Homo sapiens: one gene and its partners. The protein of the gene in region 3 purifies or fractionates together with the protein of the main gene of each other region. This does not show direct contact. Each region holds a gene or a part of one and is shown on either strand. Other genes may lie near its edges.

What was found.
Region 1: the proteins of ATIC (region 3) and OXCT1 fractionate together in Homo sapiens (co-fractionation; one large-scale study listed by BioGRID). This does not show direct contact.
Region 2: the proteins of ATIC (region 3) and CMBL purify together in Homo sapiens (affinity purification with mass spectrometry; one large-scale study listed by BioGRID and IntAct). This does not show direct contact.
Region 4: the proteins of ATIC (region 3) and GART fractionate together in Homo sapiens (co-fractionation; one large-scale study listed by BioGRID). This does not show direct contact.
Region 5: the proteins of ATIC (region 3) and GNPDA1 fractionate together in Homo sapiens (co-fractionation; one large-scale study listed by BioGRID). This does not show direct contact.
Region 6: the proteins of ATIC (region 3) and TYMS fractionate together in Homo sapiens (co-fractionation; one large-scale study listed by BioGRID). This does not show direct contact.
Region 7: the proteins of ATIC (region 3) and NAE1 fractionate together in Homo sapiens (co-fractionation; one large-scale study listed by BioGRID). This does not show direct contact.

The regions. Positions count from the first base shown.
Region 1 is NC_000005.10:41,807,926-41,811,425, reverse strand, and holds part of OXCT1 (succinyl-CoA:3-ketoacid coenzyme A transferase 1, mitochondrial isoform 3 precursor), read left to right. Parts: intron 1-3,500. UniProt on the Homo sapiens protein: Key enzyme for ketone body catabolism.
Region 2 is NC_000005.10:10,283,903-10,287,402, reverse strand, and holds part of CMBL (carboxymethylenebutenolidase homolog), read left to right. Parts: intron 1-906; coding exon 907-1,049; intron 1,050-3,500. UniProt on the Homo sapiens protein: Cysteine hydrolase. Can convert the prodrug olmesartan medoxomil into its pharmacologically active metabolite olmerstatan, an angiotensin receptor blocker, in liver and intestine. May also activate beta-lactam antibiotics faropenem medoxomil and lenampicillin.
Region 3 is NC_000002.12:215,343,059-215,346,558, forward strand, and holds part of ATIC (bifunctional purine biosynthesis protein ATIC), read left to right. Parts: intron 1-1,720; coding exon 1,721-1,813; intron 1,814-3,500. UniProt on the Homo sapiens protein: Bifunctional enzyme that catalyzes the last two steps of purine biosynthesis.
Region 4 is NC_000021.9:33,507,618-33,511,117, forward strand, and holds part of GART (trifunctional purine biosynthetic protein adenosine-3), read right to left. Parts: intron 2,304-3,500; coding exon 2,166-2,303; intron 1-2,165. UniProt on the Homo sapiens protein: Trifunctional enzyme that catalyzes three distinct reactions as part of the 'de novo' inosine monophosphate biosynthetic pathway.
Region 5 is NC_000005.10:142,000,171-142,003,027, reverse strand, and holds the end of GNPDA1 (glucosamine-6-phosphate deaminase 1), read left to right. Parts: intron 1-898; coding exon 899-999; 3' UTR 1,000-2,357; downstream 2,358-2,857. UniProt on the Homo sapiens protein: Catalyzes the reversible conversion of alpha-D-glucosamine 6-phosphate (GlcN-6P) into beta-D-fructose 6-phosphate (Fru-6P) and ammonium ion, a regulatory reaction step in de novo uridine diphosphate-N-acetyl-alpha-D-glucosamine (UDP-GlcNAc) biosynthesis via hexosamine pathway.
Region 6 is NC_000018.10:660,653-664,152, reverse strand, and holds part of TYMS (thymidylate synthase), read right to left. Parts: intron 2,008-3,500; coding exon 1,833-2,007; intron 1,168-1,832; exon of another isoform or gene 1,148-1,167; coding exon of another isoform or gene 1-1,147. Other genes in the region: ENOSF1 (mitochondrial enolase superfamily member 1), read left to right, coding at 1-1,147. UniProt on the Homo sapiens protein: Catalyzes the reductive methylation of 2'-deoxyuridine 5'-monophosphate (dUMP) to thymidine 5'-monophosphate (dTMP), using the cosubstrate, 5,10- methylenetetrahydrofolate (CH2H4folate) as a 1-carbon donor and reductant and contributes to the de novo mitochondrial thymidylate biosynthesis pathway.
Region 7 is NC_000016.10:66,813,977-66,817,476, reverse strand, and holds part of NAE1 (NEDD8-activating enzyme E1 regulatory subunit), read left to right. Parts: coding exon 1-52; intron 53-448; coding exon 449-512; intron 513-804; coding exon 805-896; intron 897-3,500. UniProt on the Homo sapiens protein: Regulatory subunit of the dimeric UBA3-NAE1 E1 enzyme. E1 activates NEDD8 by first adenylating its C-terminal glycine residue with ATP, thereafter linking this residue to the side chain of the catalytic cysteine, yielding a NEDD8-UBA3 thioester and free AMP.

The DNA of each region.
Region 1 (3,500 bases), on a different chromosome or scaffold from region 3:
CCTGTATGTTTTCAGGGTACCTGTGATAATTTGACATATTCGTATAACATAAAGGTAAAATCAGGGTAATTGGGATATTCATTACCATATTTATCTATTCTTTATGCTAAGCACATTCAAATTATTCTCTTCTAGCAACTTTGAGAGGTACAATAGATTTTTAACTATAGTTATCCTATTTATCTATTGAACGTGAGGTCTTACTCACATTTCCTCTTCATTTTACTCATTTTACTTCATTTTAACATCCAGAGCACCTCTGCATTTAACTTGTAACTTCTCTTATTGCTTATTGTCTCCCCCTTTTATTTTTCTAGACTTCCACAGCTGCTTTTTTTTTTTTTCCCTCTCTTTTGGAGTTAATGTTTCTCATGATTCTAGACATTATTGCTTGTTGTCTGTTTTTTTTCTTTTCTTTTTGGCAAAAGAAGTTTCCTCCTAAACTTTTTTGAAACTTAAAATGAGTCAGGAAGAAAGCCTGGAATGTGAGTCTCCCTCTTCCTCCCCCTCAACAGCCCTTACTTTGTATCGTACACAGAGTTTTGCAGGTGTGTATAATTTTTCGCTAACACCATTTAGGGTTGGGTCCATTTTTGTGTCTATAACAGATTGAGGTTGTCACTAAAATAAAATAAAAAATGAGGACGTTATTGCCTTGCAGCTCCTCTTTTCTCTTACCTGAGATATAATGTTTGCCAAGCAATCACAAACACATTGTCACCAAGGGATGAATTCTTATCCTTCTCTAAGCTTTAAAATAAGTTTTCAGTTATAAAGTAGGAAGAGTGCAGTGCAGAGAAAGCAATCTTTTAAAACAAAGTTCAGATCAATAACAACATTTCCTAGTGTCTATTTTTCTGTTAATGACTAAAGACAAGTACCAATTAGAGAAGCCTCAAACGTCTGGATTTCTGGTTGTAGCAAGTGGTGGGGCATGAGAACTATTCATAGTGCCATGGAGAAGTCCGGGTTGTTCTTAGCTACCTCTCTTCCATCTTGATCTTGCCTGAGGATACTTACATCTGCCCATTGCTTTGCCCTGAGGCTTTTCCTTTGTCCTTTATTCTTTATTACCCATTTCTAACTTCAGGAGGAAAACTCTGCCATCTTTAGTAAGGGATCTTTTATTTTTATGTTTGTCCTAACCAGCTCATTTTAGTCATCATTTTCTCATCAGGTTTTCCATTAACGCTTATGTTTAAATCGCCTGATCTCACTAGACTTTTTAATCCTCCCATTGCTCCTTCCTTATTGTTCTCAAGATCACACGAAACTGGCACTGAAGTCAGTCCCTTCAATAGCTAGCATTAAGATAGTTCTGCCTCTTCATTTTTTTTTTTAAACTCTTTTCATAGATTGTCTGAAAACATGTTTTCTTCTTTTGGTTTGTACTTCAAATATTTTCTTTCTTAGCTATTAACTCTGCTAACCAACTCTGAGAAAGCTTTGATTTTTGTATAGACGTTTTCAATACTGTTGAGTGTTGTTATTTTGACAAATGCTGCACATGCATTTTCTACAGTCTGAAAGCCATTTATATTAGGATGACAAAACATGGAATTGTTTATGTTTAGCTAGATTCTTGCTTATCGGAGTTGTTTTACCAGGACATATTCATTCTGTTAGTTCTGAGAGTTATGATATAATTGTCCTTGGTAATGAAGCTTTGTCTTGATTTGGTGTTTTCTGTTGAAACATTCTTTGATGGAACCAAAAGAAAATAGTGGCGGGTTTCCATCAGCATTTTCAGTTTAAGTGAGCAATACTTTTTTTTCTTCCTTTTTTATTATGTTCTTTGCCCCTGCTAGAGGGTAAGGCAGGAAGACCAAAGGAAGCTGCTGTCACAATCATAGCAAGAGATTTGAGGGCCTGACCTTTTGGAGCAATATTAGGCATGAAAAATAATTCACATTATTATTTTCAAATGTGCAGGCAAGAAGGGTTTGCTTAGTTTAGTTCATAATGTGACTGCTTTTAGGGTTTAGAAACTTCAGTTTTTCTTAGACTCTCTATTTTCTTTTTAACATGCCCTCTTTGGTACATGTCAAACTAATTGTGAGATTTATCACATGCTCCACTTATGATTTTCTAGTTTTAGAAACTTAGTGTTTATCACATCTTCTGAAAAAATAACATTGTGGGTTTCAGTTTTGATTATAAAAGTAAAAGGAAAACAAAAACCACTTGTACTATTACCCAGAGATAACAATTCTTAGCATTTCCGTGTGTTTCCTTTTATTTTCTGTAGGTATATAAATAATTGTCTATCCCAAAGTGCATTTCTATAAATTTTTATTTACTTATACAAAATCTTGCATTTTATGAAACATGAAATTATGAGATCATTAAATATTATGAGTGCATAATATTGATTAATCACATGGCTACACCATGTTTATTTGACCATTTCCCTATTGCTGACATTAAAGTTGTTTTCAATTCATTATTATAATAAATTTTGTGATTAGTGTTTTCATGAATAATAAATCTTCATGTCTATCCTCAGGATACTGGATTAATGTATAAACACATTTTTAAAGTCAAGAACTTCTTTGAAGGCTAAAACTGAATATGGAAAGATGTGAATGAGCCCTAATGGCTGAAAGTTCCAACCAGTTGAAGAGGTAGCAGTAGTGCTTAGCTGCTCTGCATTCCCCACCTCCACCTCGAATAGAAAATACTGGAGCATACAGAGTTTTCAAGGGGAGGACATAGAGTGCAGTGGCAAGGGGTCTTCGGCCCCACTTTCCCTGTCTCCTCACTCATCCCCAGATGCCTCTCTACCCAGTAGTTCAACTTGGATGCCGACATATTTTCTGACCTTTCCTTGGAATTTTTGTTTGATTTTTCTGTTTATCAAAGAAGATAGCTTTTATCCACCATGTCCTTGCCTTTTTCAGCTATTTGTGAGCATTGCACAATAAGTAAAATGTCTTCTGTAAGCCCTGGTATTCTTGCACTGTAGGAGGAGCCTAGTGAAGGCATATAGTAGTAGAACAGCATAAGAAGGGCTACTTAACCTCACAGATTTCCAGATTTCAGTGATTAGTTTAGGAAACAAAAATCAATACTACTATCCTTGTATAAGTCAGTTCATGGAAGCAAACGTTTGTTTTGGACACTGTATCTGTTAAGCTGAGTACTCACAACTTAAAGGTGTGTATGTTTGTGTGCGTGCGTGTCACCAGAAAGCTAATTCTTTCACCACAACAATGTTGAGTTTAGTTTTTCTTGATCCTTGTTCTTTTGAACTGTTTTATGTTGATAGAAAAATTGTCTTTTAAATTAATTCTAAAATAACAGACTAATGTGGAGGCATTTCATATTGCTATATGACCTTATTCTTGGTGAATGACTTTGATTCTAATTAAATTGAGTATTTCTAGTTATTAATTAATATTTCAGTTTTGAAGTTTCCATATTGGAATTAATTATCTGTCTTTAAGTAAATTATTTCAGCAATTGCAGTTGTATCACGATCCTAGGAAGCTAACAAGAAT
Region 2 (3,500 bases), on a different chromosome or scaffold from region 3:
TACAGTATTTGGTTTTCCATTCCTGAGTTACTTCCCTTAGAGAAATGACCTCCAGCTCCATCCAAGTTGCTGCAAAAGATATTATTTTGTTCTTTCTTATGGCTGAGTATAGTCTATGGTGTATATAGGCCACATTTTCTTTATCCACTCATTGGTCAATGGGCGCTTCGGTTGCATATCTTTGCAATCGTGCTACAATAAACATACGTGTGCAGCCCACCTCCACTTTGGTACATTGCTTCTAGTTGAAAATGTATTCTGAGTTCCAAACAATCAGTTTGCACATGAATCATTTGCCAGACAAGGGCCACTATTCTTGGTCCCCTCATGGCTGAAATAGTCCTGATGGCGTTCCAAATTTGGCTTCACTGGGCGGCAGGGGGAGGAGACGAGCAATGCAGAGTGGGGAGTTTTGGGGAGAGAGTGAACGTGTGAAGTCAGAGAGTGTCTGGGCGTCTGCCCATAGTTATGGCTGCTCATGGGAGAGAGGAGAGAGGAGACTCTTCTCCTGGGAGACTCAGGGGACAGAGAAGACTGGGGCACTCTGCAGGGAGCAGATCATGGACTCGGGTCTTACGAACCGTGCTGTGGGCTGTGGCCTTCATCCCCAGGCTGTGGAAGACTGCTCAGCTCTCAGCTGGGAGTGAGGCAGTTGGACCTATGTTTTGGGAAGAGCCCAGCTTGCCTGCAGCTGTCAGGCAGTTGGAGGAGGGCTGGGCTTGGCAGGAAGATGTGCTGGGATGATGCATCAGTTGGGCCAGAGGTAGTAAGGGTGGAGCTCCCAAAAGAAGAAACCTTGGCAACTTCAAAAACAGTTGCTGATACAGCCCTGTTATCATCAGCACAGCTCTTTGAGGGGTTCACAAAATAAGCCTGATTCTTGAATATTTTTTCTTTCTGTTCTAGAGAGATCAGTGCTATCTTGAAGTATCTGAAACAACAGTGTCATGCCCAGAAAATTGGCATCGTGGGATTCTGCTGGGGTGGAACTGCTGTCCATCATTTGATGATGAAATACTCAGAATTCAGGGCAGGGGTGTCCGTCTATGGTAAATCTGCCTTGTGCATTTTTACTCCATGCAGAAGGGAGGGGTGGAAGAGTGACAACAATCACAAGCCTCCCCATCCAGTGTAACACAACCCCCAATAATGTGAAGACTGCCCATCTTATGGAAATGGGTTTTAAGAATCTGAAAATAGAGGTGGAGGTTTGTCATGCAGTTAACCAGAGGATGTCACCGGGAGTCAAGAGGTCTGGGTCCCAGTGGTGTGACTTTGGGAAAGCCACCTAATCTAAATTCTCCATTTCTTCACCTAGGATGAAGGGGATAGCTTTTTTTGTTTTTTTAATGTAATGATGATCAATATCACACAAGATTTTTATGAGCAACATCTATGAAAATATTTTTCTGGTGGTGGCTAATGCCTGTAATCCCAACACTTTGGGAGGCTTAGGCAGGCAGATCACTTGAGCTCAGGAGTTCGAGACCAGCCTGGACAACATGGCAAAACCCTGTCTCTACAAAAAATACAAAAATTAGCTGGGCGTGGTCACGTGCACCTGTAGTCCTAGCTACTCCGGAGGCTGAGGTGGGAAAATCGCTTGAGCCCAAGAAGGTCAAGGCTGCAGTGAGCCATGATCATGCCGCTGCACTCCAGCCTGGGTGACAGAGCAAGACCCTGTCTCAAAAAAAAAAAAAAAGAAAAAGAAAGAGAAAGAAAGAAAGAAAGACTGATTTTTCCAAGATACAAATTGCTCTAACTGTACACAAACATGCACACACACTAAGAAAGAAAGCAAAGGCAGCCAGATGCGATGACTCACGCCTGTAATCCTAGCACTTTGGGAGTCCAAGATGGGCAGATGGCTTGAGCCCAGGAGTTCGAGACCAGCCTAAGCAACATAGAGAGACCTTGTCTCTATAAAAAATTTTAAGGCTGGGCGTGGTGGCTCACGCCTATAATCCCAGCACTTTGGGAGGCCGAGGTGGGTGGCTCATGAGGTCAATAGTTCGAGACCAGCCTGGCCAATATGGTGAAACCCCGTCTCTACTAAAAATACAAAAATTAGCTGGGCGTGGTGGTGGGCGCCTGTAGTCCCAGATATTCAGGAGGCTGAGGCAGGAGAATCGCTTGAACCCGGGAGGTGGAGGTTGCTGTGAACCAAGATTGTGCCACTGCACTCCAACCCAGGCAACAGAGTGAGACTCTGTCAAAAGAAAAAGAAAAAAATTACTTGGGTGTACTGGCACATGCCTGTGGTCCCAGCCTCTCAGGAGGCTGAGGCAGGAGAATCACTTGAGCCCAGAAGTTTGAGGCTGCAGTGAGCTGTGAATGCACCACTGCACTCCAACCTGGATGACAGGGAGTGAGACCTTGTCTCTTAAAATAAAAAATAAAAAAAAAAAAGGAAAGAAAGCCAAGGAAAACACACTCTAAAATCGAAATAGCAATTTATACATTTTTGGCCAAAACAAACCAAAGTTACTACAGCAATGAAATAACATTATATCTGTATATAGAAACTGCTTGCTAAATTCATGATATAGAAGCATTCAGACCAATAGATAAACGAAAACAAAAAAGACACATAGGAAATATAGCCTTTAAAAATAATGCAGATGCTCCTCTACTTACAATGGGGCTAAGTCTTGATAAACCCATCATAAATGGAAAATATCTCAAGTCGAAAATGCATTTAATCCACCTCACCTACCAAGCATCATAGCCTCACCTGGCCGACCCGAAACACCTGCATCAGGCTACAGTTGGGCAAAATCATCTAACGCAAGGCCTATTTTATAATAAAGTCTTGAATGTCTCATGCAGTTTATTGAATTCTGTACTGAAAGTGAAAAACAGAATGGTTGTCTGGGTACTTGGGGAACAGTTTCTACTGAATGAGTGTCGCTTGTGCACCATTGTAAAGTCAAAAAATGAAAGTGGAACCATCGTTAGGCCTGGGACCATCTGAAGTGGATCATAAAGTTATACTAATGATTCCTTCTTGGGTTAATGGTTCCTCATTGTGGTATTTTCAACTACTTTTAGAGTTAAAAACGCCTTTAAATATTGACTTAGGACAACACAAAAGGACATAAACTCAAAAGGCAGTGGCCAGCTGCCTCTGGGAACAATGGAGCTGAGAGATGCTTTGTCCAGACCATGCTTTTGCGCGATTTAGCAAAAGGCGGTCGGGAGTGGATGCCTCCCCGGCGCCACCTTCTGGCCGCTGTTGTGTAGTGCGTGAGCTGCAGAGCGTGGCCGGGCTCAGGCCCAGGGATATCAAAAGAGGCCCATCCACATGAAGTAGCTTTGCTAGAGTGGGGAAGGGAGCGTGGTCACCTTTCCCGTGGCTCCCTGCCTCCTGAAGAGGAGTTACAGGTGAAGGAGGCTCTCTCTGTTACTTAGCTCTTCTGCTGCCAGCAGGAAGTGGAAAAAAGTTATGTTATTTACGTCTTCTTATCTTAAAATGGTTAACTTGCTGCAAATCTTTTACT
Region 3 (3,500 bases):
ATTGTTTTCCAGAGTGGCTTGTACCATTTTGTATTCCCACCAGCAATGGATGAGTGATCCAATGTCTCTGCATCCTTACTAGCTTTTGGTATTGCTACTTTTTTTTTTTTTTTAAAGACATGGGATAGTTGTGTAGCAATCTCTCACTGATTTTAATTTGCATAATAGCTCATGATGTTGAACATTTTTTTGTGTACTTATTTGCTACATGTGTATCCTTTTTGGTGAAAATGTCTGTCTTTTGCCCATTTTCTAATTAAATTTTTGATTGTTACTGAGTTTTTTTGTTTTGTTTTGAGATGAAGTCTCGCTCTGTCACCTAGACTGGAGTGCAGTGGCATGATCTTGTCTCACTGCAGCCTCCACCACCCGGGTTCAAGTGGTTCTCCTGTCTCAGCTTCCCAAGTAGCTGGGATTACAGGAATGCGCCACCACACCTGGCAAATTTTTATATTTTTAGTAGAGATGGGGTTCACCATGTTGGTCAGGCTGGCCTGGAACTTCTGACCTCAGGTGGTCCACCCGCCTTGGCCTCCCAAAGTGCTAGGATTACAGGCATGTGCCACTGCGCCTGTCCTGTTACAGAGTTTTTAAAGTTTTTTTATGTTTTAGGTGCTAGTTTGTTGTTGGATATGAGGTTTGTTAATAATTTTCTCCTAGTTCGTAGCTTGTCTTTTCATCCTCTTTAATGAGGAATCTTTTACAGAGGAAAAGTTCTTAATTTTACTGAAGTCAAATTTATCAACTTATCTGTTGGCTGTAGCAAATATCCTCTGTCCATTTAGCATACAGACGTGGACTATCATCCTTCTTTTCCATTTGTATTCATGCCTGATACTAAAGATAGTGATATTTTTGGGCGTTATTCTTGTTGTTCTATTTGGACTGGTAATTCCTAATGGTTTTTGAACAGTTTCAACTTAAGTTATTCTAAACAAAAGAGAAAATGATCGTAATTTGATTTTTCCAAAGTCTTGGCTGTCTGTGTGCATCATAACGATTTGTGATGTCTATGAAACAATTCTCCGCATTGGTTCTGAACGTAAATTTTACCATGTCTCCAGATATTTAAAAGTACTCTGGTCAAGAAAATATTGTTTGTCAGTTTTGGAATGGATATGGTAGTTCTTACCTCATGTGATATAAAAAGGCTTAATCCACAATTGCTACAAAATAACATGAGTTTGTGTCTATGGATGCATTGTGCTAAGTTCCACCCCAAATGTGTTAAATATTTAAGTAAATCATGGTAGTGTGTAGGAGAACAGTTAATTTCCCTCTGTCATTTGAGTGGTATAACTATGTTGTAGGTCTTTTACATTAAATAGAACTAAGAAACTTAAAGTTGGCCAGGTGTGGTGGCTCACACCTGTTGTAATCCTGGCACTCTGGGAGGCTGAGGCACGTAGATGACTTGAGCTCAGGAGTTCGAGACCAGCCTGGCCAACATGGTGAAACCCCATCTCTACTAAAAATACAAAAATTAGCCAGGCATGGTGGTGCATGCGCCTGTAATTGAAGTGTGAGAATCTCTTGCACCCGGGAGGTGGAGGTTACAGTGAGCCGAGATTGTGCCGTTGGAGATTGTCCCATTGTGCCTGGGAGACAGAGTGAGACTCTGACTCAAAAAAACCACAAAAAATAATATTTAAAAAAAGAAGCTTAAAGTTAAATGAGTTTAAAAGGCCCCATGCAATTTACCATTGTGTATGTGTTTCAGTTGCCAGAGTCTGCCCTCCGAGACCTCATCGTAGCCACCATTGCTGTCAAGTACACTCAGTCTAACTCTGTGTGCTACGCCAAGAACGGGCAGGTAAGTGGGCTGTTGGACTCGCCTTCGGGGGACTGTTGTTTTACGAAATGATATTTAAACATCCGTCTGCCTTAGATATTGGACAGCTTGAAAGGGAATATTTGCCAAATGTTTGTCTTTTGTGTTTGTCAGTGTTTCCTCAGTACCCTGGTGGGCTGTTAAAACTAATGATGATCAGAAAATATCTTTGGAACCAGGTACTCAAAGTAGTTGTGCTGCTTCTTGCCTTGAATAGGTTGGCACATTTTGGATTAGTGAGACTCTAATAGCTGTTACAAAACTGGATTATTTCCTTTCCTTTTCCCCCATTGGTATTATTTCCAGGGAAGAGGAGGTAAGTTACGGTACTGCCACCCACCAGCCTATATTTTTGCAGCCTGCAGGGTATTTTCACATTATTTCTTATGTTGTCTTATCAAGAATCTGCTGAGTAGAAAGACTGCTAGACTAGGAGTTAACTTCATCTTTAAAAAGTTAGGTTCATTGAGGCATAATTTGTATACAGTAGAATTCACCTTTTTAAAGTACAGTTTGACCAGTTTTCACAAATTTCACAGTATGTGACCGCTGCCACAATTAAATACCAAACATTTCTCACTGTGTGACGTTAAGCAAGATATTACACTTCTTTCCTAGTGTCCCGAGCCTCAGAATACAAGATGGAGCTGGTTCATCTCTGAGGTCTCTGCTAGCCTTTTCTTCACCTGGTGTCCTGAGCTTATCTCTTGGCATTTGTTAAATTATTTGGCCCACAAGTGACAGGGAGGTGGGTGGATATGAATTAGCCTATGGCCTGGAAGACCCCAGATTGCCAGTCTCTGTAGTAACAAACTCCTGGGAGATTGTGTCTACTGGTGTCAGGTTCTAAGAAGTTCTGTAAGTCCATGTAGAATGAGTGCTTCATTCCTGATGTTGAGGAGGAGGCGGCTGCCCAGGTATTTGTGGTCTCTTTTATTCTCTTGTAGCTGTGGGCAGGGTTGCCAGCAGCTGTGCTCAGAAAGAGATGGACTGTTGGGCAGACAGCTTAGGGGCTGTTCATTATAGGAACTAAAACCAGAAAACACACCTGTGCATTTAAGTCCTTGTTGCTTAGAATTCAACCCATAGAAATAGAGGAAAGAAGGAAGAACATTTGTACCTGGCGGAATTGTTTCTACTTTTAGCTACCCATGTCAGATCCTTATCTCAATTTCTGAGAGTTGATATTTTAACTGTAATTTATACACTGGGGCAAACAAAAGACTTTCAAGTAACCATAGTTATTTTTGTGGTCATTAGTTTTATTTATTTATTTATTTATTTTTTATAGAGACAGGGTCTTGCTCTGTTGCCCAGGCCAGAGTACAGTGACATGATCATAGCTCATTGTAGCCTTCGACTCCTGGCCTCAAGCGGTCCTACCACTTCAGCCTCCTGAGTAGCTGGGACTGCAGGTGTGCGCCACTACCCCTAGCTATTTTTTAATTCTTATTTTTTGTAGAGATGAGATGTTGCCATCTTGCCCAGGCTGGTCTCCTGAGCTCAAGCAATCCTTCTGTCCTAACCTCACAAAGTGCTGGGATTACAGGCATGAGCCAGTGCACCCAGCATTGGTCATTTATTTTAACTTTTTTTTTTTTTTGACCTCAAACCATCAATTTTATTGAATTGTAGATTATTAATAGTCATATGTCACATATCACTGAAG
Region 4 (3,500 bases), on a different chromosome or scaffold from region 3:
TCAAGACCAGCCTGACCAGCCTGGCCAACATGATGAAACCCCATCTCTACTAAAAATACAAAAAATTAGCCAGGCATAGTGGCAGGTGCCTGTAATCCCAGCTACTCAGGAGGCTGAGACAGAAGAATCACTTGAAACTGGGAGGCGGAGTTTGCAGTGAGCCGAGTCTGCGCCACTGCACTCCAGCCTGGGCGACAGAGTGAGACTCTATCTCAAAAACAAAAACAAAAACAAAACAAAAAAAAACTGAAATAAAATAACTGGATTGTTTGTAACACAAAGAATAAATGCTTGAGGTGATGAATACCCCATTTACAGGGATGTGATTATTACAGGTTGTATGGCTGTATCAAAAGATCTCATGTACCCTATAAATATATATACCTACCATGTACCCATACAAATTAAAAATTAAAAAAACTCCCTTCCTCTTGGGATAATGGATTAATAGATTGTGAAAAGCACAGATATTCCTGGATAGCCTCCAGTTCCATCCATATTGCTGCAAACGACGTGGTTTAGGATATGTAATTGCTCCTAGGATATGTAATTGCTCCCACAAATTCTGTATCTTGTGATCTAGCATTGTAGTAGAAACAGTATAACATTATGTTAAAACTGACTGATGAGAAATAAGCTGCTTAATTAAGCAAGAAAAACTGACCCTCTCAAGAACAAACCACTATGCTATGACTCTTACAATAGTTTCTTTAAAAAAAAAAAATTTTAGATTCGGGGGTACACACGCTTGTTTATTACATGGGAATGTTGTATAATGGTGGGGACTGGGCTTCTAGTGTACCTATTACCTACATAGTGAACATTATACCTGATAGAAAAATTTTCAACCCTCACCTCTTCTCCCACACTTCCCTGTTTTGTATCTATTGTTTCCATCTTTTTTTTTTTTTTTTTTTTTGAGATGGAGTCTTGCTCTGTCTCCAGGCTGGAGTACAGTGGTGCAATCTCAGCTCATTGCAACCTCTGTCTCCAGGGTTCAAGCAATTCTCCTGTCTCAGCCTCCAGAGTAGCTGGACTACAGACGTGTGCCACCATGCCCAGCTAATTTTTGTATTTTTAGTGGAGACAGGGTTTCACCATGTTGGCCAGGATGGTCTCGATCTCTTGACCTTGTGATCCGCCCGCCTCAGCCTCCCAAAGTGCTAGGATTACAGGCGTGAGCCACAGCACCCGGCCCTATTGTTTCCATCTTTATGTCCACATGTACCCACTGTTTAGCTCCCACTCATAAGTGAGAACATGCAATATCTGGTTTTCTGTTTCTGAGGCAGTTCACTCAGGATAATGGCCTCCAGTTCCATCCATATTGCTGCAAATGATGTGGTTTTATTCTTTTTTATGGCTGCATCTTACAATAGCTTCTTTGCTTTATTATCAACTTGGGCCTAAAGTACATTAAAACCTTAAGATCGACCTGTAAAGCAATTAAACTTCTGGGAATGAATCCTGAAGAAGTATCAGAGCTGGTTGTGGTGCTGCATGCCTGCAGTCCCAGCTACTCGGGGGGCTAATAAGGCGGAAGGATTGCTTGAGGCCAGAGCTGGAAGCTGCAGTGTACTATGACTGCATCTGTGAATAGCTACTGTACTCTAGCCTGGGCAACATAGCAAGACTGTCTCAAAAAGAATCACTATGATCTTGGCCATCAAATAAAAAAAAATCACATATGCATTTAAGAACATACTGAATATTTGCAAGAATGTTCATAGCAGTGTTACTTACAATAGAGGGAAAAAAATCAGGCTACATCCATCTGAGAGAATACAATACTCTTATTACTTTACCCCTCTATCCATAAAGGTTAAACATAAACTTCTTCTAATTAATAAGATAACAATAAAAATTCCTCAACTGTTTTCAGACTTTTCAACAACAAAGCTATGATACAAAATGAGCTGTAGCTTCTATCTTTTCTGGTTTCTCTTTAACCAGCTTTCTGACATCCTTTACTTTTTTCTTTGGGAGCTGTCTCAAATTCCTAAGAAAAGTGGAAAGACTAAGAATGCTGAAAAGACAAAGACAACCCTCATGATTCCCCCCAGTCCCTAGACTCTGCCGAGAGTAACCTTACAATCTCACAAGAGTGCGGGGAGGAAAGGAAGGGCAGTCAACAGCTCTACAGTGAAGGGGAAGCCACATCTCACCTGTTCCAGATATTAAGACAGCCACTCTGGCCTTTTTTTTTTCAAAAGAGAAATGATTTGTCAGGGAGCCATTCTTCAACACTGACCCATTTATTTGCATGCTTTCAATCAGATTCTTGACTTTCACACGTGGGGAACCTTCATTTCAAACATATCCATAAATAAGTAAAGAACAATTGTGAATTAACAAGAATAATGGAAAGAAAAATATTTTATGAAAACTTTAGGGTATGTTTTATCCTGAAAATAAGATAATGCAAGGACTAAAATGAACAACACATTTGTATCACTTAACACTACTCTTTCATAAAAACTTCCAAAAGGTGAACATATGTAATTACTTCAACTAAAAGCTGCAGATCACATCACTATCTTGAAGTGCACGGTGGATATATATGACTGCCTGCCAGTATTCTGCCCCTACTCCCCAAATCTTCCTAGCGAGACCACCCACAGTAGTGCCATGATCTCCTGGTCTCGGGGATAAGCATGTGACCTAGCAAAGCCATTTAAAGGCTTGATATGCGATGTTAAGAAAAAGAGGGTCTCTCTTTTTTTTCTTTTTGAGATGGAGTCTCGCTCTGTTGCCCAGGCTGGAGTGCAGTGGCGCGATCTCGGCTCACTGCAAGTTCCGCCTCCTAGGTTCACGCCATTCTCCTGCCTCAGCCTCCCGAGTAGCTGGGACTACAGGCGCCCGCCACCACGCCCGGCTAATGTTTTGTATTTATTAGTAGAGACGGGGTTTCACTGAGTTAGCCAGGATGGTCTTGATCTCCTGACCTCGTGATCCACCCGCTTCGGCCTCCCAAAGTGCTGGGATTACAGGCGTGAGCCACCACGCCCGGCTGGGTCTCTCTTTCTTATTGTAATGTGAGCTGAAGGATGTTATCTTTCCGGCATTTGGAGAACCCGCTTGAAAATGAATCCTACACAATAGAGGAAAGAAAGGCAGATACAGGTAAAGTCAACAAGGTCTGACATTTTTTTTTTCTATTTTTTATTTTTGTGAATCTTCTCTGTATCGTTCCAATTTTAGTATGTGTCCTGCCAAAGCAAGCATGTGACGTCTTTGTTAGTGAATCTGAGTGGATTTTCTGCCCCTCTGCCAAGTTCTAGCACTTCTCGCAGAGTCCTGACTGATACAGTACTTGTCAGGGTGCTTGCTCGCTATTCCTTGAATCGAGCTGAGTGACAGCAGAGCCATGAGGTCTTGTGTGTAGGGAGATTACTTTGGGAAGCGATCCTGTGGGGTGTGGCTGTGCATGCATGAATGCTTAGTTCTGAGGCAGAAATGAAGAGATACGTGGTATCGCTGGGGTGGGTGCTGTCATGTTA
Region 5 (2,857 bases), on a different chromosome or scaffold from region 3:
GTAGATCCAGCTTTCATCCTCTGGTCATTTTAATTGACAACTGTAATCTTAAGAAATATCAAACCCAACTGCATCACACTACACAGTCATTTCTCTTCTGCCTGTGACTGCAAAGATCCATTTCTGGAGATCTGTTTGCTCTGAGGAGGAGGAAAGAAAACGCAATGTGGTCCAAGGACTATGTGGTGACCTCACAGTGCCATTAAGCCTCAGGTTTTCTCTTTTCAAATCTTAAACAAGCGATTCCTTTCTTTTATTTACTTTCTTTCTTTTTGAGACAGGGTCTCACTCTGTCGCTCAGGCTGGAGTGCAGTGGTGTGATCTCAGCTCACTGCAACCTCCACCTCCCGGGCTTAAGTGATTCTCCTTGCCTCAGTCTCCCAAGTAGCTGGGATTACAGGTGCCCGCCACTATACCCAGTTAATTTTTGTATTTTTAGTAGAGGCGGGGTTTTGCCATGTTGCCTAGGCTGGTCTCAAACTCCTGACCTCAGGTGATCCACCCACCTCGGCCTCCCAAAGTGCTAGGATCATAGGTGTGAGCCACGATGCCCAGCCCTTCTTTTACTTTAAAAGGATGCACACTGCTTTAGGCAAACATGTGAAAATCCTCTTTTACTCAAGTAGGTCAATTAGGAATTTGTCCTTTGCTGAAAAGACTAACCTTTAAATAGCCAACTCCCATAGTGATTGAATTTATAAAAGTTCCATGAATGTAGTACTCACTGTGAATAACTCTTTTTATACTCTTAGGGTGTTTATCATTTGGGGATCATAGAGAAAAGAGAGAAGTGTCAGCTCTAAGACAAAATTTGAGAGCTCCTGGATGTTATGATTGATAATCAAGGAACTCTTGCCACTGCCTGAATTAACTACTTTTTGTTTTTAATTTTTTGTAGGTTTAATGCTTGTTCATAACAAGTTGGTGGACCCCTTGTACAGTATCAAAGAGAAAGAAACTGAGAAAAGCCAATCTTCGAAGAAACCATACAGCGATTAGCCTGTGCTGGGACCTAGTGTCAAGTACCCATAGGGAAAGGCAGGTCTTTCTGGAAATTGTCTTTAGAAGAAAGAATTGTATTTCTTTAATCTAGTATGGTTACTCCAGATAAGTGGGTGAACTTATTGTTCTTGGCCATGAGGCTGGGAGCCTAGTCACGGAGTTTAGCTATAGGGAGAATGTTTGTAACTTAATCAGAAAAAAAATATCTGCAAAATGTACTCCATCATTTTGATGTCTGCCAAACCCAGGTTGGGAGTTTTAAACTTTTTGTTCTGCTTCAGCCATGGTTCACACATATGACACACTCCCGTCAGGAATTTCTCTCCTTACACGCACTGATTTTCAAGTGGGAGGGAATTAGGGGCTTATGTATATTGGATACCACCTCTTTGAAGAGTCTTGAGAGTCCTTCTTGCACAGGCCTGCCCCTTGGTTGAGAACCATTGTTCCAAGTGAAGGCACAAACTCTCAATATCTAAAATAAGTGCAAGGAAGCAGTCTCTTTGGTCAGTAACAAGTGCAATGGAAAGAAAACGATCCCTTCCTTCTTCCACTTTCACAGCTTTTCTCTGAACTAGGAGAACCTGGGGGTGGATTTGGGTGGGTGGGGCCAAAGAGGAGGCTTCTATTGATAAATCCAGAGCCTCAAGGGGCCCAGCCACGTCAAACTTCTCTCCCTCAGGGACTCTCCAGCACCAAAAGGCAGAAGGTGGAAGCCGTTTTTCCCCCAGAGCCCTGTGTTTTTGTGAAAGCCTCACTGTGGCTCCTCTGTTTTACATACTCATTAGTAAGTGGGAGGTCCACTGGGGCAACAGACACTGCCACAATTTCAGTGTTGTGTTCAGCCAAGGGGACGGTCTGGGCAGGCAGCTTAAGTGTGAGTTTAGTCACAACTCCTGAGTGTCCCGCTCTCCTGCTTACCTAGGAGGTGAGTGCCAGGAAAATACACCAAATGCTTCTAGTATTGTTTCCCCACTTAAAATAGTCCTGCTTAAATTCACATGGTGTGGTCTGATGTTCTGAGAGCATCAGGAAATACAACCCTTTTGCCCATTTACCCTTCTCCCCGGATCCCAAGGTGGTCTGTTGCTCTGGCTTCCTTTCATTGTCTTAGGCCTTCATGGAGTGGATGCTGCCTCCTCCTGGCTGTTTTTGTGCCTGTTTGAAGCTACTGCTGCCTCCATTTCTGGGAAAGACCTTTGAGAGCCTAGCCCAGGCCTAAGGGCTATGTTTGGTACCAGTGTTTTGTCTTTAGCTTTTCTATGTGATTGTGCCGTCATTCTGTTTTAAGCTCATGGATCAATGGATTTGTTTACAATGTGATATTTTCTATTAAATCCAGTATTTTCAAATAACATGTCATTTGTGGATTTGAGCCCCCAATTTTAGAAGACTCTCTGGGCTATTTATATATTTTAGAAAGAGCTGGTAAGCAAAGCCTCACATTCAGTCCTCACAAGAGCCTGCAGGAAGGCCACAAGCATAGCAACCATCATCAGAGTGAAAAATAAGATTTTATGAAAATGGAGCACTTACAGGAAAAAGGGTAGGAATGAACAGATGAGCAATAAATTGTCATGTTGGGGCTGTACCTGAGATCCAAACGAGGATACAGCTGTTATAAAGATTAAGGCAGATTTGTGATGAGGGATATTATTGCAAGGTATGCAAAAATACATATAGGTTTTTTTTTTTTTAAAGTTAATATAATGGAATATCTTAGGGCAATATAGCCAATTAAGGAGGTAGATATAGAAGTTAAAAGAAGGGTTTAATTTTTTTAACTATTTTGAGGCTGGGTGCAGTGGCTCATGCCTATAATCCCAGTGCTTTGGGAGGCCAAAGCAGGAGAATC
Region 6 (3,500 bases), on a different chromosome or scaffold from region 3:
ATGCTCATGGGTAGGAAGAATCAATATCGTGAAAATGGCCATACTGCCCAAGGTAATTTATAGATTCAATGCCATCCCCATCAAGCTACCAATGACTTTCTTCACAGAATTGGAAAAAACTACTTTAAAGTTCATATGGAACCAAAAAAGAGCCCACATCGCCAAGTCAATCCTAAGCCAAAAGAACAAAGCTGGAGACATCACACTACCTGACTTCAAACTATACTACAAGGCTACAGTAACCAAAACAGTATGGTACTGGTACCAAAACAGACATATAGATCAATGGAACAGAACAGAGCCCTCAGAAATAACACCGCATATCTACAACTATCTGATCTTTGACAAACCTGAGAAAAACAAGCAATGGGGAAAGGATTCCCTATTTAATAAATGGTGCTGGGAAAACTGGCTAGCCATATGTAAAAAGCTGAAACTGGATCCCTTCCTTACACCTTATACAAAAATCAATTCAAGATGGATTAAAGACTTAAACGTTAGACCTAAAACCATAAAAACCCTAGAAGAAAACCTAGGCATTACCATTCAGGACATAGGCATGGGCAAGGACTTCATGTCTAAAACACCAAAAGCAATGGCAACAAAAGACAAAATTGACAAATGGGATCTAATTAAACTAAAGAGCTTCTGCACAGCAAAAGAAACTACCATCAGAGTGAACAGGCAACCCACAAAATGGGAGAAAATTTTTGCAACCTACTCATCTGACAAAGAGCTAATATCCAGAATCTACAATGAACTCAAACAAATTTATAAGAAAAAAACAAACAACCCCATCAAAAAGTGGGCGAAGGACATGAACAGACACTTCTCAAAAGAAGACATTTATGCAGCCAAAAAACACATGAAAAAATGCTCACCATCACTGGCCATCAGAGAAATGCAAATCAAAACCACAATGAGACACCATCTCACACCAGTTAGAATGGCAATCATTAAAAAGTCAGGAAACAACAGGTGCTGGAGAGGATGTGGAGAAATAGGAACACTTTTATACTGTTGGTGGGACTGTAAACTAGTTCAACCATTGTGGAAGTCAGTGTGGCGATTCCTCAGGGATCTAGAACTAGAAATACCATTTGACCCAGCCCTCCCATTACTGGGTATATACCCAAAGGACTATTAAATCATGCTGCTATAAAGACACATGCACACGTATGTTTATTGTGGCACTATTCACAATAGCAAAGACTTGGAACCAACCCAAATGTCCAACAATGATAGACTGGATTAAGAAAATGTGGCACATATACACCATGGAATACTATGCAGCCATAAAAAATGATGAGTTCATGTCCTTTGTAGGGACGTGGATGAAATTGGAAATCATCATTCTCAGTAAACTATCGCAAGAACAAAAAACCAAACACTGCATATTCTCACTCATAGGTGGGAATTGAACAACGAGAACATATGGACACAGGAAGGGGAACATCACACTCTGGGGACTGTTGTGGGGTGGGAGGAGGGGGGAGGGATAGCATTGGGAGATATACCTGATGCTAGATCATGAGTTAGTGGGTGCAGCGCACCAGCATGGCACATGTATACATATGTAACTAACCTGCACATTGTGCACATGTACCCTAAAACTTAAAGTATAATAATTAAAAAAAAAAAAAAAAAAGAGTGTGAAACGGCCTTCATGAGGCTTAATTGTGGCTTAACCTGGCACCACCCCTCACAAGGTCAAAGCTATACATCAGCTCCTGTGACATTGACTCATCCCCCAGACCTTATCTAAAACAACGGAGCAAACACATGCTAGGAAGGGCACCCGGGAAATGGAAGGCATTGTTCTATCTCCTCACCTGATTCCATATCTCTGTATTCTGCCCCAAAATGCCTCCACTGGAAGCCATAAACTGGGCCCAAGTCCCCTTCTTCTCTGGTGGAGAATCCCAGGCTGTCCAAAAAGTCTCGGGATCCATTGGCATCCCAGATTTTCACTCCCTTGGAAGACAGCTCTTTAGCATTTGTGGATCCCTGGAAGAGATGGGGAGAGCAGAGCAGGCATCCAGGTAAATCCTAAGCCATCTCAGTTGATCCCCCCGAGACACCACTTACAAGGGCCTCTGGCCCCTGCTGACTTGCTAGGAGGTGGGCACTTGACACCACCCATATGGAACCCATCCTTTTTTTTGTTTTTTGAGAGTTTCGCTCTTGTTGCCCAGGCTGGAGTGCAATGGCGCGATCGTGGCTCACGGCACCCTCCACCTCCCAGGTTCAAGCGATTCCCCTGCCTCAGCCTCCCGAGTAGCTGGGATTACAGGCATGCGCCACTACACCCAGCTAATTTTGTATTTTTAGTAGAGACAGTGTTTCTCCATGTTGGTCAGGCTGGCCTCGAACTCCTGACCTCAGGTGATCCGCCCACTTCGGCCTCCCGAAGTGCTGGGATTACAGGCGTGAGCCACCACACCCAGCTGCCCATCCTATCTTTAAGTAGGCTGGTCCCAGCCCAGATTCCTGAGGGCTTTAGGACAGTCTGATCCCTTCTTTGGAACCACCCTCCCAGATCTTTTCTTCCATTCCCCTCAACTAAGCTTTTTAGGCTAAACACCTCCAAGTGCTTTTAAGTATTCCACCGATCTGACAGTTTTATGTTTCTTAATGAAATGTGTTGTCTATATGTAATACCCCAAAATGAATTTAATGCCTACATGCAATCTGTTCAATGTATCTTCTACCTGGCATACAGGATATTCCTAATGATCAGACTAATCAGTATTTTACAGTGCAGGTGCCTCAACTCCTGTATTTGATCGAGTCACCAATGGAGTAACTCCAACTATCAAGGTGAGTCTGACATTCCTGGCAAGGATTCCTTAGAATCCTGAATTGAAGCATTAAGTTGAAACAGGGGAATGCATTTTATTTCTGAGTATCTTGCTTCCTCCCTTTCTATTGTTGAGTTTGTCCCGATTTTCTTTGATTGAGAAAGAATCAAAGAAATTTCCAACAAATCAAAGAAATTTCTCCAATTGAGAAATTTCCAACAAATCATTTCTCAATCTTTTACATATTGCTTCAAAAGTCTCTCCTTTTCATCCATTCAGACCAGGCTCTAGCCAGTTTAAGAATGTTGTCTTCTGAGGTTTCTGATGATATGTTTCAAATCCAAGGTTCATTGTTAGTCAAGATAGGCCAATACAGAACAAAATACCCCAAGAATACAGAGCTAAGGCAGACCTGGGGCTGGATCCAAATTGAAGCCCTTTCTAAAATGGGATAAGAGGGCTTGGGTCTGGCTTGCCCCAAGACCATACAAGCCATACCAAGTGCTCTATAGAAGGGATCCCAGCTTCTAGTATGGCCCAGACCTGAGCCCAGACCTCAGCCACCTTCCAAAAAGCACTGGTCAGAAAGAACATCGCTGGTTCTAGACCAGGACACGGAACACAGAGAAGCTTGGTCTGGGCTGCTGCCTGTCTTCACAGCACTCTGGCCCCGGCCTGAGGTACCTACTCAGCCCTCTG
Region 7 (3,500 bases), on a different chromosome or scaffold from region 3:
TACTCCATGGATTGTGATCATAGCTAAATATTTAGCACAGTGGTATAGTGAAGTATGTCCTTTTTTAAAAAAAATTTCATATGCAACTGTATTTTCAGTTTCTTACAAAGGATTTCCTTGATGGGGAATGGGAGATTAATTTTTTTTCCTTATGGAGTTGTATGGTAGGGCAAATGGATGCTTTTAAATTTAAATCTAGCAGTTCCTCTTTTGATCCTGATAATTTTAATTAAAATGAAATTCAATAAATGTCATTATGAAACTGGCAGGGGGAATGAATGTAGATAAATGGTCACAGTGTCTGTTTTCTATCAAGTGAGCCTCTGATTTCACAGAGAAATATATTTGTTGATGAAATCTTATGTAGAGAATGGGGGACACTTTAGACTTTCAATTTCTGTATTTTGAATTTTAATAACTAGATTTTTAAAATTTTTAACCAATTTAGACAAATGGACGAATACCTAAAACGTATAAAGAAAAAGAGGACTTCAGAGATTTGATTAGACAAGGTAATATGGGATATGATTAAATACTGTATAAAGCTTGAAAAGCAAATTGCTAGAGGCAGGTACTTATTGGATTTCTGTTAACACCTTTGTCAGATGATAGCATCATGAGCTTTTATTTTCCTTCTGGAGAAGTTAAGAAGCCACGCCTTGTATAGTTTTAAGGACTAATGATAAGCCGTATTTCTTCTTAAGATTTAATATTCTGCAGGATCTGACAAGGTTATTTTTATAATGGGGGAACAGAAGAGTGAAAAGAAAAGGGCTGTTTGCTAACAATTTCCCATTACAATAGGAATTCTAAAAAATGAAAATGGGGCTCCAGAAGATGAAGAGAATTTTGAAGAAGCTATTAAAAATGTGAACACAGCACTAAATACAACTCAGGTAATGAAAGAGTTGCTGAGGGATTCACATGAACAAGATGTTTTCTAGAGTCCTTGGCTATTAAATGGTTGACTATAATGATTTAAGTTAATATTTTCTAAATGTATAGTTAGAAATAAATACAGGGCCGGGCATGCTGGCTCATCCCAGCACTTTGGGAGGCTGAGGCGGGTGGATCACCTGAGGTCAGGAGTTCGAGACCAGCCTGGCCAACATAGTGAAACCGCGTCTCTACTAAAAATACAAAAATTAGCTGGGCATGGTGAACATACCTGTAATCCCAGCTATTCGGGAGGCTGAGGCAGGAGAATCACTTGAACCCAGGAGGCAGAGGTTATAGTGAGCCAAGATTACACCACTGCACTCCAGCCTGGGCAACAGAGTAAGACTCCGCCTCAGATGCCTTTGGTTTTGTTATGGCTTAGTTGTTGAGGTCTGACCATTGAAGTTTTTGGGGAGCTTTGGAATAACACCTGGTAGTTTAAGTTAGAATTTTCTTGTAACTTAAAACAGCAAATATGCTGCCTTTCAAGTTAGGAAGGCACGTAAGATATTATTACCAACTTTTTAGAGACAACAAGGCAGTGTTGCTGAGTGATTAAAAGTGTGCTGGCTGGGGCCAGGCGCGGTGGCTCACACCTGTAATCCCAACACTTTTGGGAGGCCGAGGAGGGCAGATCACATGAAGTCAGGAGTCCAAGACGAGCCTGGCCAACATGGTGAAACCCCATCTCTATTAAAAATACAAAAAATTAGCTGGGCATGGTGGTGGGCACCTGTAATCCCAGCTGCTTGGGAGGCTGAGGCAGGAGAACCGCTTGAACCTGGGAGGTGGAGATTGCAGTGAGCTGAGATCTCATCAGTGTACTCCAGCCTGGGCAACAAGAGCGAGACTCTGTCTCAAAAAAAAAAAAAAAAGTGTTTGCTGGCCAGGTGTGGTGGCTCACACCTGTAATCCCAACACTTTGGGAGGCCAGGGCAGAAAGATTGCTTGAGCCCAGTTCAAGACCAGCCTGGACAACGTAGGGAGATCTTGTCTCTACAAAAAATTTAAAAATTAGATGGGTGTGGTGGCATGCACCTGTAGTCTCAGCTACTCTGGAGCCTAAGGTAGTGGGAGGATCGCTTGAGCCTGGGAGGTTGAGGCTGCAGTGAGCCATGATTGTGCCACTGCACTGCAGCCTGGGCAATGATATGAGACCCTGTGTCCAAAAAATAAATGTGCTTTGTGAATCACTTTTCTGGGGTGATGAACATTTTCTGTTTTAATTGGGGTTATGGTTAAAAATATGTATATATAGTTATCAAAATGCATTGAATTGGACATTTGAAATCTCTGTATTTCACTGAATATAAAACCACAGTTGAAAAGAAAAGATTCTAATAGTTGGGGGGCAGTAAGCTAAATAAACAGATAAAAATGCACCAGGTGCTGTGAACAAAATTACAGCAGAACAAAGGGTCAGAGAGCATGCTGGGGACAAGGGAATCCGGGGTTGAGAGACAATTGTACATAGGGAGCCAGGGAGACTTTCCAAAAGACATTTAAGCAGAAGCCTGAGTGAAGTGACACGCAGAGGTCTGGTGGAAGAGCTTTTCAGTTGGAGGGAGCACATGTGCAAAGGCCCAGAAGTGGGATGAAGCTTGACTTTTGTTCAAGCATCAGTAAGCAAGTCAGTGTGATTGGAGTGAAGTGTAAAAGGGGGAAAAGTGGTAGGAAGGATTTGAGTTTGGAGAGGCAGAAAGGGCCAGATCATAAAGGCCTTGCAGGCTATTTAAGCATTTCAGTCAGGGAAGTGGATTGAGCTGCTTTGTATTCTAAAAGACCATTCTGGCTTTCATGAGGAGAACACAATTGAGGGGACTGGGAGTGGAAGCAGAGAGAGCAGTTAGGAGGTCCCACTGAGACATTTCTTTTTTCCACCCATCAGTAGAATCCAAGCCTATGATTTGTGTGTGTGTGTGTGTGTATTTTTTTTTTTTTTTTTGAGACAGGGTCTCACATTGGTGCCCAGGGTAGAATGCAGTGACACAATCACTGCTCACTGCAGCCTTGACCTCCTGGGCTCAAGTGATCCCCCCACCTCAGCCTCCCAAGTAGCTGGGACCACAGGCACGTGCCACCACGCGCAGCTAATTTACTTTTATGTTTTCTATAGACGGGGTCTTCCTGTTTTGTTCAGGTTGGTCTCAAACTCCTGGGCTCAAATGACCCTCTCACCTTGGCCTCCTGAATGCTGGGATTATAGATATGAGCCATTGTGCTCAGCTTTATACTCTTGATTAACGTATGAAGATCTTGCTAGCAATAAAATTACTTTATGGTTTTAGTTTTTTTCAGAGTGGTTGTCTCAACGGTCACTAATTAGGGTGCAAGGGTTTCAGATTTTTGACAAGATGGAAAATCATGATATACTGCGAGTCTATAATCTGTTTTGTCTTCAGATGTAACTATATAAAATAATTTACTGGGGCCCCTTCTTTACCCCATTTATGGTATAAGAGAATAGGTATTAAATGGTAGCAACAGTGGGCCGGAGAGGTCTTTCTTCCATTCTTTCCCCATCAAATCTTCATATGGTACTGATTCTAAATAAAATTATA